2 separate regions of the Homo sapiens genome follow, and region 2 is linked to region 1. A link means that fine-mapping ties the variant in region 1 to the expression of a gene that starts in the linked region. Tissue or cell type: whole blood. Region 1 holds a variant in brackets; the other region holds the start of a gene. All regions are shown on one strand. Distances are between the middles of the regions.

Region 1 (8,101 bases):
AGGTGGAGGAGGAGCTGAGGAAGGCAAGTCCTGCGCTGCGCCTGGCCCCGGTGGCTCCAGCCTCTCTGTTGGCTTCCCGTGTTTACCCAGCTGCTCCCTGTTCCTGGCTGTGGGGTTGGCTGCACTGACCTTTACCCATTCCTTAGTGCATGGGAACTTCTCACCTTCAGATGCCATGTCTAAAGGCTGTGTCGGTATAAGTTCTACATTCCCAAGGTTGAAAATGCTTCTTAGAGTTCTTAAGAAAAATATGCGTGCGTTGTTCAGATGTGACATAAACGTGGAGCTCTGGGATCCACTGAGCTCTTATTCTTCCATTCACTCATTGCAGCCAAGCCAGTGGGGCACCTAGTGTGCCAGGCCCAGCACTTTCTTACCGTTAGAACTGGAACCGTGCTGCCAGGCAGCCCTCCTTCCCCGGGCTTGCGGGTGCCGTGGAGTCCTGCGTCCCCACTGGCATGAGCATCAGGTTCACAGGCCACTGCCACCTGGAGCCCGGCGCTTCCCTTACGCAGTGTGCCTGTGGGAGACCACGTGGATGTCTTGTTGATTTCCAGCAGTCACTGGGGCACACTGTCAGTGGCTCCTTATTGCCCACCAGGCACAGCCCACATTCCTGACCTGAATTGGCTCGTGAGGCCCGCTGCCCCAGCCCCCTGGCCCTCTACACTCCGGCCACACTGACCTTTGCAGTCCTCCCCGGGCCAGGCTGTCCCCTTCAGCCCTGACGATGTCCCACCTCAGGCACCTGTTCTGTAGATTGGGGCAGCATGGGGACCCTGGGACTCTAGCATGTGCCCCCTGAGCCGTACTCCCCACCGCGCTGTGGGCTCTATGAGGACAGCGACCATGTCTCTTATCGTTTGAGAGACCCAGCCCCACAACTGCACTTGGCACAGGCTGGGCATGCAGCCCAGGCTTCTGAGGGAAGGGATGAATTAGTGAGAGCAGGAGGTCCTAGGGCCACGCCCTGTGTGTCCAGCCCCTGTCCTCTACCAGCTCCTCTCTGGAGGGGCCGCTGGGGCCCAGAACATGTTGGGAGTTCAGGGCCGAAGGGTGGAAGCTGCTGGTGCTCATCTCAGCCTCTGCCCTTGGCCTCCCCAGCTGTTTGACATCCGTCCCATCTGGTCCCGAAATGCTGTCAAGGCCAACATCAGCGTCCACCCAGACAAGCTCAAGGTCTTGCTTCCCTTCATAGCCTATTACATGGTAAGTGTCAGCTGCCCACCCACCTGCCTTGGTTTCCACCCATGTGGTCCCTGGTCCCTGCTGTGATGTCTTAGAGCCACAGTAAGAGCAGCCAACCCCCTATCCTGGCTCCCCATCCTTCCTGCCCCACCCCCATCCTGGCCCATCCTTCCTACCCACCCCTGGCCTGGCCCTCATCCTTCCTGCCCTGCCCCCAACCTAGCACCTCCCCCGTCCTGGCACCCCCATCCTTCCTTCCCCCCTGTCCTGGCCCCCCGATCCTAGCATCCCTAAGACAGCTTATTAAAGCCAGCTAGAAAAGTTTCAGCTCCCTGAGTCCAGGGCGCCCTCCACAGCCTGTTGGGCTGCAGAACCCAGCCCCTGACCACAGCGGCCCCATGTCGTCCTCTACCTGTGTTGAGTGGGGTTCAGTGGGAGGCAGATCCACCTTTGATCCACAAGCATGTAAAGACACATGTCATTACTGAGGTTCCAAAGGTGCTGGTTGGAAAGGGATCCTCCCCGCTGCCAGGCCTCACAGAGCATTAGGGGAGGCCAGCGTAAGACATGACTGTGAGGGTCTGCAACAGGCAGTAGGACACAAGAAAGACTCATTTCTTCTGCCTTGTTGGACTTCCGGCTCAGGAGAGCGACCTGTGCTGCTTGGCGTTGGCATTTTATTTTATTTTATTTATTTTATTTATTTTGAGATGGAGTCTCACTCTGTCTCCCAGGCTGGAGTGCAGTGGTGTGATCTCTGCTCACTGCAACCTCCGCCTCTGGGATTCAAGTGATTCTCCTGCCTCAGCCTCCTAAGTAGCTGGGAGTACAGGCGCACGCCACCATGCCCAGCTAATTTTCTTTTTTTGCATTTTTAGTAGAGATGGGGTTTCGCCATGTTGGTCAGGCTGGTCTCGAACTCCTAACCTCAAGTGATCTGCCTGTCTCGGTCTCCCAAAATGCTGGGATTATAGGCGAGAGCCACTGCGGCTGGCTGGCATTGGCTTTTTAGACATAAGCCATTCAAAAGCTCCGTTTAGGGACAGAAGATGTCTCATCGATTAGGCCAGTAGTAACATTGGGCACTTAATATGTGCCAGGAACCATGGTAAAGGCTCCACGGGCGCTATCTCATTTAATCCTCTGAAAAACCATGGGAGGCCAGGCATGATGGCTCACTCCTAGAATCCCGGTACTTCGGGAGGCTGAAGCGGGAGAATCGCTTGCATCCAGGAGTTTGAGACGAGCCTAGGCAACATAATGAGACCCCATCTCTACAAAAAAATTAAAAATTAGCTGGGTGTGGTGGCTCGTGCCTGTAGTTCCAGCTACTTGGGAGGCTGAGGTAGGAGGATCACTTGAGCCCAGGAGGTTGAGGCTGCAGTGAACCGTGATTTTGCCACTGCACTCAGCCTGGGCAACAGAGTGAGACCCTCTCCCCCAAAAAACAAAAACCCACAGGAAAGGGTGCTCCTTTTCCCTCCATCTGACAGGAAGACCAAGGTTTGGAAAGGCCACGTGCCCTCACCAAGGTGACAGGGCCTGCATGTGGCAGAGCAGGGCTGGGCATCCAGAGCCCTGTCCCCAGCTCCTGAGCTCTTCTGCTGCCTCACTGTAGGCTCTGGCCCGTCCAGGGACCTGGGCCTTCACCTCACCTCACATTTTCCCCACTTTTCTGTCCCAGATAACAGGCCCCTGGCGCAGCCTATGGATTCGATTTGGGTATGACCCCCGAAAAAACCCAGATGCCAAGATTTATCAAGTCCTCGATTTCCGAATCCGTTGTGGAATGAAACACGGTAAAAATTCCTGAAAGCTTTGCTTCCTGCCTTTCTCTCTCTTTATCTTTCAGTTTCTAGCATTCTCTTTTGTAGTAAGAATCTTTTCATTTGGAAAGAATAAAAAAACCTTTTGCCCCCGTTGCTGAGACTCTTTTGAATGCAGAATGGCGTGGAAACGAAAGTCCTAGTTCTGTGCTGGCCCCACCACTGACCGCCCGTTTCTGAACCACAGTCCCTCATTAAGTGACTCCACGTGCCCTATGGTCCTGTGATGCAGGCCAGGCACTTGTGAGAGCATCAGTGCCCGCCCTGCCTGGGAAGTGCTGAGATGTGTTGGTGACCGCAGTGGCGTGCTTGGCAGTCTGGGGTTGCCCTCTCAGGAGCTGGCCCCATGGACCCAACTCCCATCTCCAGTGTGAAGCCAGTGTTGTGTGCCGACGGGCCCTGTGCCCGCCCACCTGACTTGCCCGCCCTCGCCTACAGGTTACGCCCCCAGTGACTTGCCGGTCAAAGCAAAGCGCAGCACCTACAACTACAGCCTCCCCATCACCGTCAAGAAGACATGTAAGCGTGCCAGGCGCCTTTTGTGGGTCATGAGTGATTTGCCAAGGAAGGCGGGGCACCTGGACCCAGACGGGGAGGTGGTTCCTGGGGGTCACTCCAGGGCTCTGCCGGTCATTCCTCCCCTAGGAGGGGGTGGGCTGGCAGGAGGGCAGGGCATGGTGGTTGGGAGAGACACCTCCTCCCCACCCTGCACATTCCAAGCACTGCTGTTGTCCCCACGCAGCCAGCCAGCTTGTCACCATGCATGACCTGAAGCAGGGCCTGGGCCCGTCGGGGACGAGTGGTGCTCGGAAACCAGCTTCCAGCAAGTACAAGCTCAAGGTGGGCGCCCCTGGAGGCCAGGAATGGAGGGGAGGACTTCCCTCTTGGGGCCGGGCACCTTGTGGGTGACACCTGGGGGGCTGTGATTAGGGCAGCTCTGCCCACCGGGGCCTCGGCACCTTGCTTCCTTTTAGGTCAGCCTTCAGACACTGAGGGTGAGAACTCGGGTGCAAAGCCCCAGGGCTGTGTGTGTTGGGGACATCTGGCGAAGAGGTGGTGACAAGTCTCAGGGAAGTCTGGCACCAGCAGCTGCATGTGGTTGTCCTTCTCGAGCCCTTTGGGAGCCTGGGCCCCCACTGAGCCACGTGACCACTCCGGGAATGATCGGAATTGGGCACACACAGGAGGACAGAGCCAGAGCAGGCCATGTGGGCTGCAGCTGTGGCAGGAGCCTCACTGGCTCACGTTTCCGTCAGTGCGGTTGCCCAGCGGGGGTTGGCGGTTTCCAGAGCTGTTCCCACATTCAGGCTCCCGCAAGCCGCTCCACAGCCCTGGGGGAGGCCGAGAAGGGGGCATCCCGCACGGTGGAATCACCTGCTGAGGGAGTGGGT[G/A]GCAGAGATGAGTGCAGCAGAGACGGGTGATGCGAGGGACTTGCTGTCCCCCAGTGTCTGGGGCCCTGCCTATTTTCTAGGTTTTTTAGACCTTTGCTGCCTTCCCAGTGAGGGGCGATCATGCCACAGCCTGTGCGGCCTTCCTTCTCGAGGCCTCTCCTAGGAGGCCGTTATCCTTACTCTAGAACTACATGGCTGGGTACGGAAAGGAGAGAGCAAACACTCACTAAGCCCTGCTTTTCCCAGAAAAGATGTCAGGGCAGCCCATAGGGGGACATAGGGTGACAAATTAGCAGCAGTGGGTGAGGGATAAGGTCAGAGTGCAGGAGGGCACAGAGAGCAGAGCCCGGCACAAGGCTAGTGCCAGCCCCATGCCATGGGCGCCATGGCCTGCTGCACGGGCGGGCTCACCGTTTCCAGTGGCCCCAGGAGGGCCTGGGTGCTCCTCTGCCTCTCCCAGAGCCTCCTGGGGAGTTGGACATTGTTTTTTCCCCAACTCCTCCGTGGCCTTCCAGCCTGTCTGCCCAACCTGCTCCTGGTGACCAGCCAGCTCCCTGGAGAGACCCCATGGGAGCCTACATGGAGTCTGCAACACTGGCAGCCCCAGGGCTCTGGCTCACCTTCCCTGTCTCTCTCCCCCTTTGTCACCAGGACTCTGTCTACATCTTCCGGGAAGGGGCCTTGCCACCCTATCGGCAGATGTTCTACCAGTTATGCGACTTGAATGTGGAAGAGTACGTATGGGAGGGGCCCTGAGACACTGAGGGGGGCCCGTGGGACCCAGGGACCAAAGCGGTCTCTGAACTCTTCCACTTCACGTCGGCCTTCATCTCCGGCAAGAGCACTCGCCTGTCTGGGAGTTTGGTGCTGCCGAGAGCCCTGGCATGCTGGTGGCCCTCGTAGAGGCGGTGCCCTATAGAAAGCCGTGGCTCCAAGCTGCGCAGAGACAGTTCTTACTGTTATGTCCTTGCTCCTCTTCCACTGTCCACATAAAGGCCCCATGAGGTGGTTCTCAATCCCAGGACCCATCAGATCCCAGAAACCTTTTATCGACTTGTTCTCAGTGATGTTTAAAGAATTGCAGGGAAAGGGCACTCACTGGGATGAGAGGAGATGGGAACACATCAAATACATCTTGAACTCTGCTGAAAGCCATGGTTCACCAGAAGCATGTGCAGTGGTAACACGGCCAGCTTCATGTGTGTGAGGCGGTCCAGGGAGCACACAGGTTTAGGGCCCCAGCTGGGAACACACAGCTTGTGTTTCCAGTTCCTCTCTGTAGACTTCGCTCACGGGGCTGCCTTTGATCTCAGTACAGCTCTGCCTCTGGCAAAAACCAACACTGGCATCTCTTAGCAGAGACCCGCCCTGGGACTTTATGTCCCAACCCTCTCCCCACCCCCAGGTTGCAGAAGATCATTCACCGCAATGACGGGGCAGAGAATTCCTGCACAGAACGGGATGGGTGGTGCCTCCCCAAGACCAGCGACGAGCTCAGGGACACCATGTCCCTCATGATCCGGCAGACCATCCGCTCCAAGAGGCCTGGTAAGAGCCGCTTGGGGTAAAGGGGGTCCAGGATGCCTGGTGATCTCCTTTGAGACAGAGGTGTCCCTAAGGGGACCCATTCCTGGGAAATGGCACCCAGGTGGCATCATCTTGCCCCTGGCCCTGGTGGGAGGAGGACATTGTGAGCCAGAGCCCAGCCCAGGTGCTGGCATCACCCCAGCTGCCCAGAGGCTGCCTCAGCCGAGGCCCTCAGCCCTGCGGTCCGGGGCAGGAGACAAGCCCAGAGGGGCTGGGTGCAGCAGCCTGGCACTGCCATCGGGGCCTCCACCTGACGCCCTCACACCAGCCCATGTCTTTCAGCTGTGCATGCGCAGGCTCTGCCTCTGTCTTCTTCCTGTTCTGTGTGGCCCAGCCCCTTCCTGGAACCAGGCAGCCCTGGCAGGAGTGAGGGCCAGCTGCAGGGAAAGTGAAGGGGGCAACACCTGCCAGGCTGTGGGTCTCACGAGGCTCGGGGGAGTTATAAGAGGCCCCCTCTCTCAGGGAACTCCTCCCAGGCTTGGGGAGGAGGCATCCTGGACCCAGCCACGCCCCACAGATCTGACCGAAGCAGGGGTTCTTGGTCTTGCTTGGAACCCAGATTCAGCCCCCTTTGGGAATCTAATCAAGGGTGTGGACCCTTTCCCAGAGAAAATGGTGTGTTCACTCCTGAGGGTCCATGGGCCCTTGAAGCTGCTCATGGCTCCCCTGCTGCAGGATTCCCCTGGGTGCCCGTCAAACTACAGCTTCCCTGGGGGGCCTCCACCCCATACTTACCCACCAGCTTCTTAAGAGCTCGAGCTCGGACCCTTATAGTAGTAAACAGGCTCCCCAGAGCCTGGTGGCCTTTCTGGGGCCACCCGGCAGCCTGCATGGGACACCCATGGCCTTGTCTCCTCCGGCCCCAGCTCTCTTTTCCAGCTCAGCCAAGGCTGATGGCGGAAAAGAGCAGCTGACGTACGAGTCTGGGGAAGACGAGGAGGATGAGGAGGAGGAGGAAGAGGAGGAGGAGGACTTCAAGCCATCCGACGGCAGTGAAAACGAAATGGAGACAGAGATTCTGGACTACGTGTGACAGGGCCCAAGGCTGGGCCTCCCTGACCCGGCCAGACTGGTGTCTGGCCTAATGAGGGAGCCGGGGCTCCCCATTGCCACCCACAGTGCCCGGAATGGCCCTAGGAGGCCCTCTGAGGAGAGCTAGAGTCCCAGCAAAGGGTGCAGCTGACCCTAGCACTGGCTGTGACATGCTGCTTGGTGCTGCCTCTGGTCCTGAGGGGTTAGGGACATCCCCAAAGGGTATACCCTGGCTCTGCCACCCATGAACCAGCCCAGCATCCAGCCAGTGAGTGGGCACCCAATGCCTCTCAGGATGAGACCAGTAAATGCCGGAGGTGGAGCTGGGCAGCTGTGGAGCCCCAGGCCACAGGCCAGTCTCGCTTGGCTCTCATGACTGTGGTGGTGGAGATAGCGTGGGGAGCCTCGCCCATGGTCTCACGTGGCAAGAAGTGCCTTTAGCTCTGGATCCCAACCGTTTGGCACAGCTTTGGCCACAGCCAGGCCCCTCTGGAATTGTCCTTATTAAACCAGTTTCCCGAGAAGTCTTGGTTTCTTGGTGTGAATGTTGGCGCTGCAGGGGAGTCTTCTTATTGCCTTGGGGCTTGGGCCCCCTTTGTCCCTTCATATATTCCTTCATTCATTCCTTCATTCATTCAGTGACATGCTGGCAGTGCTGGCCTGTGCCCCCCTCACATGTGGTCGGGTTGGGTGAGGGCAGCTAGGAGGACTCCAGGCCTGGGGTCAGTTCTTCTCTAAATGAATACCTTCTTGACAAAGTCATGGGAAACGGGCCCTGCTGTCCTGTGGCTGCCCAGTGTGAAACTAGTGGGTCCTGAGCCCACCGAGCCTGCCTGCCTGGCCCCGCTCCCCATGTTGCCCTTGGCTGAGGCACCTCTTGTGTCTCCCCAAGTCGGCAGCAGCACTCCCTCCCAACCTGTGTGCGTGCCGAGTATTTGTTGAAGAAACAGTCAGTTGTCAGAGAATGGCCCTGTTCTGGATTGGCTGGTTGCTTCTGTGTGGTGCTGAACCTGCTCCTCTCTCCCCTGTATTTCCTGGGGACAGGTGGAGGCTCAGCCAGATTCGGGTTCAAGGTCT
Region 2 (8,101 bases), 24 kb before region 1:
TCTTTGCATTCTTGCTGTGCCATAACATGGTGGAGGGCACATATGCAAGAGGGCAGGAGAGAGAGAGCCGGAGAGAGCTTGCCTCTATAACAAAGAGATAAGCAACTCACTCCCACAACAGCGACATTAATCCATGCATGAGGGCAGAGCCAACATTAATTTATTCATGAGGGCAGACAAATTAAGTTTCCAACACATGAAATTTGGGGGACATTTTCAAACCATAGCATATGCCCTGAATCCAGGCAGAGAAAGTGTCCCCTCAGTGCACAAATATTGTCACAGCTGCCTGCTCTGAATGCTGCAAGGTTTTGGAGAACGTTAAAGCTACTTCTTTTTTTTTTTTTTTTTTTTTTTTTGAGATGGAGTCTCACTCTGTCACTCAGGCTGGAGTGCAGTGGCATGATCTCTGCACACTGCAACCTCTGCCTCCTGGGATCAAGCGAGACTCCTGCCTCAGCCTCCCGAGTAGCTGAGATTACAGGCATGTGCTACCACATGTGGCTAATTTTTGTATTTTTAGTAGAGATGGGGTTTCACTATGTTGGCCAGGCTGGTCTCGAACTCCTGACCTCAAGTGATCCACCCGCCTTAGCCTCCCAAAGTGCTGGGATTACAGGCATGAGCCACCGCTCCCAGCCAAAGCTACTTTTTAACTGGGTTCCTGATCTTTCTTGGCCTGTCTCTGCTCCCAGCCTTGCCTTACTGCTCCTGCCTCTGACCTCCCGCTTTGGATCTCAGGCAGGACCAAGTCTAATCTCAAAAAGCTTGGTCTGATGCCCTGGGGTTGGTCCCTTGTCTTCCCCTCACACTCAGCCCCTCCTCACTTCCTGTGCACTAAGGGACACTCCTTGTCTGACAAGCCTTGATTTAGTGTCCCTATGACCATGCCCTGACCCGGGGCTCGATTGAAGGCTCAAATAAGACAAGTGGCCTCATTCAGTTGTTCAATAAATACTTCCTGAGCACCTGCTCGGTGCTCAGCCCCATGCAAAGCAGTGGTGACAGTGGGAAGACAGTGGTGAATAAGACAGACATGGTCCCTGTCTTCAGAAAGTTGCCACTCAAGTGGAGAAGTAAAAAAGAAAAAAAATAATAGTGCTTCCGGCTCCATGATGCAGTGGGTTTGGGGCCCCGGGCAGCGAGGATGGCACCAAACTAGTGTTTTGGGGTCAGGGAGGATTTACCAGGCAAATTGAAGTCTAAGGCAACAACCTAAAGGAGAGGAGTAGTTAGCCAGGTGGTGGGCCAGGGATGCTGGGGAGTCACTGGAGGCAGGGACAGACTGCGATCTCATTCTGGAAAGATCACTCTTGCTTCAGTAAGGAGGAAAAATACAGCAGACAAACTAGAGGGTCACTGGATTGCATGGTGGGCTCACTAAGGTTCCAGGTGGTTTGGAATCAGCTTTCCAAATTCAGAAACTCAATCTCAATACCCGGAGGTGGGAGTGCCATATTTAGCAAATTAAAAAATCACCTAGCTAAATATGAATCTCAGATAACACATATTTAGTATAAATATGCCCCAAATATTGCATGAATTCAAATTTAACTGTGTTCAATATTTTATTGGCCAACTCTACCAACAGTGACCAAGTCTTCATGACTGTCTTATGTGCACCAAACTCACAGGGATCTGATGTAAATACACCAATTTATTGATTTACAATTGCAGGCAAGGTTAAAATATACATGTTATTCAGTTTCTCCTTTCTGGAAAATGAAACAGTCAGAAGACTGGTGAACATGGAATGAGGACAAAAGGACACAAGGAAGTTTGAAAGGAAATTTCATCTCAAGGCATGGTAAATTCTGGAGAATCATCCTGGCCTCCCTACAGAGAATCCTCTTTGGTGGCAGAAAGTGCAGGTCCCCCCTGGAGAGGGCAGGTCAGGGACCACCGGGTCCTCGTGTGCAGCTCCCTGTGGAAACACGTGGTTCTTCTAGCTCAACCATCATCTGCTGGTGGTTGATTTCCCACTGTACTCTCAGGAGGTGTTCTTTCAAAGCTTTGGGGCTCCTGACCCAGCCTTCCAATTACAATACAATATATTTCACATTGAGGTTACACTTTAGAATGTATTCAGTGGGCTGAATTCATGTAGCTATTTATTCTGCCTTCTTAAACCCAAGGAGAGCAATCAGGTACTCTTCTGATTAAGAAATCACAGGCTGGGCACGGTGGCTCACGCCTGTAATCTCAGCATTTTGGGAGGCCGAGGTGGGCAGATCATGATGTCAGGAGATCGAGACCATCCTGGCCAACATGGTGAAACCCCATCTCTACTAAAAATACAAAAATTAGCTGGGCGTGGTGGCGCATGCCTATAATCCCAGCTACCCGGGAGTTTGAGGCAGGAGAATCGCTTATACCAGGGAGTCGGAGGTTGCAGTGAGCCGAGATTGTGCTACTGCATTCCAGCCTGGTGACAGAGTGAGGCTCTGTCTCAAAACAAACAAACAACAAAAAGAAATGACTTTAGGCAACATAGTGAGACCCCGTCGCCACACACACACAAATACAAAATTAGTCGGGTATGGTGGTGCACGCCTGTAGTCCCAACTACTCAGGAGGCTGAGGCAGGAGGATCACTTGAGCCCAGGAGTTCGGGGCTGCAGTGAGCCATGATCACACCACTACACTCCAGCCTGGGTGACAGAGGGAGATCGTGTCTTTCAAAAAAAAAAATCACTTCAGAAACGGGGTACCCATACCCAAGGGGTCACTTGCTCTTACTAATTTCTAGCTGTAATGCAAGTGGCATGATCATAGCTCACTGCAGCCTCCAACTCCAGGGCTCAAAGGATCCTCCTGCCTCAGCCTTTTGAGTAGTTGGGACTACTGTGGCATGCACCACCATGGCCGGCTAATTTTGTATTTTTTGGTAGAAATGGGGTCTTCCCCTGTTGCCCAGGCTGGCCTCCAACTGCTGGGCTCAACTGATCCTCCCGCCTCAGCCTCCCAAAGTGCTGGGATTACAGGCGTGAGCCACTGTGCTGGGCCATGATTCTCATCTCCCAATATTCTCAAACCCAGTCCCTTCATCTCTTGACTGGATTATGCAGTCTCGGAGCTGGTTTATCTGAACTCACTTTCTCCCCCTTTGATCTGTTCTCCACACAACAGCCAGAGAGGTCTTTCAAATGCATGAATGGGATCACTGCTCCGCATAAAACCCTTCAAGGGGCCAGGCGCGGTGGCTCACGCCTGTAATCCCAGGACTTGGGGAGGCCGAAGCAGGCGGATCATTTGAGGTCAAGAGTTCAAGACCAGCCTGGCCAACATGGTGAAACCTCGTCTCTACTAAAAATACAAAAATTAACCGGGCATGGTGGCAGGCGCCTGTAATCCCAGCTATTCGGGAGGCTGAGGCACGAGAATAGCTTGAACCCGAGGCGGAGGTTGCAGTGAGCCGAGAAAGCGCCACTGCATTCTAGCCTGGGCGACACAGCGAGATTCCTTCTCAAAAAAAGAAACCTTCAGGGGCTCTCCACGGCACTGGGAAGCAGCCAGCCCGACGGGTGGACCCTTTTCGTGGGTGCGGGTCTCTGACCTCGGTCGGCCTCGGACCTCATCTCCTCCCTGTTTGAGGGGCCACACTCCTCGCTCCGGGGCTTTGCAGCAGCCCTGGGCGCCTACCGGACAGACGCCGTTCTCCCCGCCTGGGTCTTGAGTAGGGCCCAGCACACAGTAGGCGCTTAATGTCTGCCTGCCTAACAGACGAACGCCGGATGCCCGCGTTCGGCCCCGAGCCGGCGCTTCGGGGCTTTCTGTGGAGGCGGGGCGATGGTTACAGCACAGTTCCCCCGCGCTCGCCTTTTCCACATCCACCTCCGCGAGGCCCCCCGCAAGCGCCGTTGGAAACCTAGTCCCGAGGGGGCTGCAAGAGCTTGGGAGAAGAAGCGCCAACACCGACAGAATACCAGGCCGACCCAATGCGGAAATCAATTCTCAGCCGGGACCTTTTCCCCACCAAGCAGGCGGGCCGGAAGTCTGCCTCTGGCCCGCCCCCGAGGTGTCATTGGGTGGAATACCCAGAAGAGGGCTGGGACGTGGTTAACTCTAGTTCTTTATTGGTTAAAACGTACGAAGCTGGAGGAGAAGGTGGGACCTAGCTTCCTCCGGACTTCTCATTGGCTCAAAAAAAAACTCGCTCGGCCCTCGGATTCTCATTGGCTGAAGTCGAGGGAGGTTTGTGTCTTATTATCCTCCGGGTCCCTCGCTGGCTAGTAGGAGAGACTGGTGCTTGCCCCGCCCGGTGGACTAACTCGCTTAATTTTAAATAAAAAGTCGAGGACACGGCGGTCGTTTTCCCGAAGACATGGGCCCTCCCATGGGCCATTTGCTCCCTGGAGGCCCTCGCGTCTTGCTGAGCCCGGGGAGTTAGGATGACGCGAGCGGTGAGGGAGCCCGGAACGATTCCTTCGCGGAACAATTGAGGCGAGGCCTTTGGGAGTACTTTGTGGGACGGACCCTGGCGGGCCCTGCCAGACGCACAGGGATGGCGGCGGAGGCGGCCGATTTGGGGCTGGGGGCCGCCGTCCCCGTGGAGCTGAGGCGGGAGCGACGCATGGTGTGCGTGGAGTACCCGGGAGTGGTGCGTGATGTGGCTAAGATGCTGCCGACTCTGGGCGGCGAGGAAGGCGTCTCCCGGGTAAGGGGCTGGGAATCTCGGTGTTGGAATAAGAGCTCGGAGTCGCAAAGAAAACGAGCACTCAAAGGATTTCTCAGCAAGGGAAATTTAGCAAATTTACTTACGCAGAAGGGTGCTGCTCGCTCTTCTGGCCGCTGCAAGAGAGCCAACAGAACAAAGAAGGGAAGGATTTTTGTTTTTGTTTTTGTTTTTTTGTTGGTTTTTCAGGCGGAGTTTCGCTCTTGTTTCCCAGGCTGGTGTGCGGTGGTGCGATTTTGGCTCACTGCAACCTCCGCCTCCAGGGTTCAAGCGATTCTCCTGCCTCAGCCTCCAGAGTAGCTGGGATTACAGGCGCATGCCACCACGCCCGGCTAAATTTGTATTTTTTAGTAGAGAGGGGGTTTCACCATGTTGGTCAGGCTTGTTGGAAATAAATTTTGGGTGCCGCAAAGAAGAATCAGCACTCTGGCAAACAGTTTTCTCAGCAAGGCAAATTTCCTTCTATAGAAGGGTGCATCTTGCGGATGGAGCAATGGCGAGAGCACACCGACAAGGAAGGGGAAGGGGTTCCTATCTCTTACACAGCTAGTCTCTACTGCTGTGTCTTTCCCATATTGGCTAGGGTTGGACCGCACAGTCTAAGCTAATTCCGATTGGTTATTTCAAAGAGGGCAGGGGCACAGGCCTGAGTGGCGGGGTGAGTAGTTTTGGTGGGAAGGATGGTTACAGAGCAGGTGACTCAGGATGACTAAGGACAGAGCAGGTGATAGAAGCTAGGAAGGGGTTGTTTACTGAAACTAGGGGCAAGGAGGCGTAAAGAACGAGGGGTTAAACTTTAAAATGGAGAACAAAGAACAGGGAAGCTGAACATACTGACATATTGGTTCTTTGAAATGGAACTCATAACTCATTGTATTTATTAATTTTCCCCCTCTTGAATTTAAAGGAAGGTAAAAGGCTAAAATCTTTGAAGTGGAATTTACTGTGTCCTATAGGCTGGTCTTGAACTCCTGAGCTCAGGTGATCCACCCGTCTTGGCCTCCCAAAGTGCTGGGATTATAGGCGTGAGCCACCGTGCCCAGCCTGGAATGGGTTTTTATCCCTAAGGCAGTCAGTCCCTGTTTTTGTGTCCTGTCCCTGCTGGTTGGAGTTGGACCACACAATCTAAGCTAATCTCAATTGGCTATTTTAAATAGAACAGGGGTGTGGGTTACAGTGACGGGACGAGCGATTTCGGTGGGAAGACTAGTTTCGGCGGGAAGGGCAGTTAAACAGAGCGGGTAACTAAGGGCAAGGAGGCACAAAGAACAAGGAAGTTAGACTTTGAAGATGGAGAACAAAGAACAAGGGAGTTGAACAAGCTGAACCTTTGAAGAAGAATTCACTGTATAGAACAGTTTCCCCCTCTTGATTTTCATACTTCTTTCTCTTCAAACCTTTTTAGCATGTCTCGACTTTGCTGTTCTTGGTTTTCTAAAAGTAGAAGTTTGTCTGAATAAGGCGGGGGGAAATTGGAGGTTAGTGAGAGCTGTCTCCGTAAGTCTTTGTATTAACCCTCAGGCACAGGGTATGATACAACATCCTACGAGAATAAACACGTTTATTACAATGGCAAGGGACATAAGGATCGAGGACATAAGTCCTTTCCACCTGCCGAACAATCTTCCCGTTAGATCAGTGAAGAGATCGTTTATCCCAGAATTTTAAGCTAGCTCATTGGATAAAGCAGTAAGACCTTGCAGTGCCTTTGTTATGGTTCCGTCAGGAACAGTATTATTTGGGATAAAAGTACAACATTGGGTTCCAAGCATGACACAAACGCCACCCCTCTCTGCTAGTATCATTTCTAATGCTATTCTATTTTCCCAAGCCATTTGACTGGTGGGTCCTAGTTGTTCAGCTGTTCCTTTGATAGCATTCCTAGTATAATTAACAAATTGTTGCTGGTTGTAATAGATGTAACTTATCCAATCTACATTTTTATTTATAGTTAACCACCAGAAAAACATAGACTCAAATCCCGCAGCTATTTGATTACAAGCCTTAAATTCATCAGGTACCCCTCGGGGAACTCCAGTGGCATCTGTATAAACACGAGGGTCAAAGGAACCACGGGGGGCATCTCTTACTCTACGGTGTCTTGTTTTTACTTCTTCTGGTTGATGAAATGCCAGAGTGAAAGGGATGGCCAATTGGATCAGAGCACAGGTACCGCTCCAGTTACTTGGCAGAGTATCCAGTTACGGTCCACCACAATGCCACCATACATCTGCTCAGGATAAATGACTAGGGGCAGATTCATGGGTAAGCTCTTGGAAGGGCTTAAGCTCACTGCATCCTGTTAGGTCCCCAAGGAATGCCAAATTTTCCCTGTCACAAGAGACACAAAGTAAAATTGGCACTGGGAGACAGAAGCTGGATAGCCCTCAGGGGCTGACCCGCAGGGTGTTGAACCTCAGGGAACAGCAGAGAGAGAGCTCGGCACGATTTATCACCCCAGGCTGTGGGGTCCTGGAAAAGAGCTACCGTACAGCCCATGCCCACTCGTCTGGAGGACCATCCAAGTGGAAAGGGGACAGTCTGGGCTTCTGGTCTACTGTGTGCACAAGTGTAACAATCACTTTTGTTTAAAGTGCGGACAGAATATTTAATCCATTCCATCCAGGCGTTTGCATCTCAGTACCCTGTTTCAATTGCTAGAGTTTGCTTTAGGTCTCTTACTTCTACAGCTGCTACTTTGGCTGGGTCGTTGTGGAGACCGGAGGGGAACACTGGGCCTGATATGTTTGGGGAGAGCGTTGGGTCCCATACGTTCCCTGGACTCTGGGTCTGGGTTTCTTCATTGTTTTTAACCGCCGATGGTCCAGTCAACCTTAGAGAGGGTTCCTATGGGATCCCGTCCTGTAACATCTGCTCCTAACCCGTACCGTCCGAATACAGAGGGTTCTTGGGCCATTGTTTGGGGATTATCTATAATTAGCAATAAGGGGTTACACCGCAGTGGCTTACAATTTGGTGGAGTGGAGCGATGGATAAGTTAGAGTTTTTGTTTGAGTTTCCGCAACTTATTTAAAGGAGGGGGGTTGGCTGTCCGCCTCCCATATTGACTGGTCCACCAAACATTTGCCCAGTCACCACAGGGGCCCTTTAAGGCTCCATACTTATACTTGTTTGACTGTCTGCGATATGGACATGGATACTTAACTACATCGGATAGCTGCCTTTGAGCTTGTTCGTATCTGCACGGGGTAAGAACAAGTGTCGAACTGAAGGGTCAAGGGATGGTTAGCCTGAGTCACATTGATGACAAGATGACCTTATGTTGGAAAGAAAAGGAAAAATAGACAAGTGATTATTAAGCCCTTTTTAGGGTTAGTTTGGTAGGGGTGGGTCCCGGGGTGACAGCCCATTTTTCCCTGTCTGTGGACATTACTCCTTTCACCTGGCGTGTAGTGTGCCCATCCC

Evidence for each region. PIP is the estimated chance that this variant, and not a neighbour inherited with it, causes the effect.
Region 2: it holds the start of GTF3C5, and the variant in region 1 is fine-mapped to the expression of GTF3C5 in whole blood (TOPMed, PIP above 0.99).

What each region holds. Positions count from the first base shown.
Region 1 is chr9:133,050,956-133,059,056 of GRCh38, forward strand. It overlaps GTF3C5 (general transcription factor IIIC subunit 5), which reads left to right. Exons shown (of 11, transcript NM_012087.4): 4 at 1-23; 5 at 1,105-1,209; 6 at 2,873-2,987; 7 at 3,453-3,533; 8 at 3,757-3,854; 9 at 5,057-5,139; 10 at 5,811-5,953; 11 at 6,859-7,548. The coding sequence ends at 7,025. LOC124902325 reads right to left here. Exons shown (of 2, transcript XM_047424377.1): 2 at 7,126-7,219. The coding sequence ends at 7,126. MIR6877 (microRNA 6877) reads left to right here and starts at 1,041; the gene lies at 1,041-1,104. The variant G/A (reference allele first, on the strand shown) is at 4,406.
Region 2 is chr9:133,026,508-133,034,608 of GRCh38, forward strand. It overlaps GTF3C5 (general transcription factor IIIC subunit 5), which reads left to right and starts at 4,490. Exons shown (of 11, transcript NM_012087.4): 1 at 4,490-4,657. The coding sequence starts at 4,505. LOC105376306 (a long non-coding RNA gene) reads right to left here and starts at 3,915. Exons shown (of 2, transcript NR_135119.1): 1 at 3,643-3,915; 2 at 1,645-1,924. RefSeq lists enhancers at 3,671-3,920, 4,155-4,806, 4,251-4,510.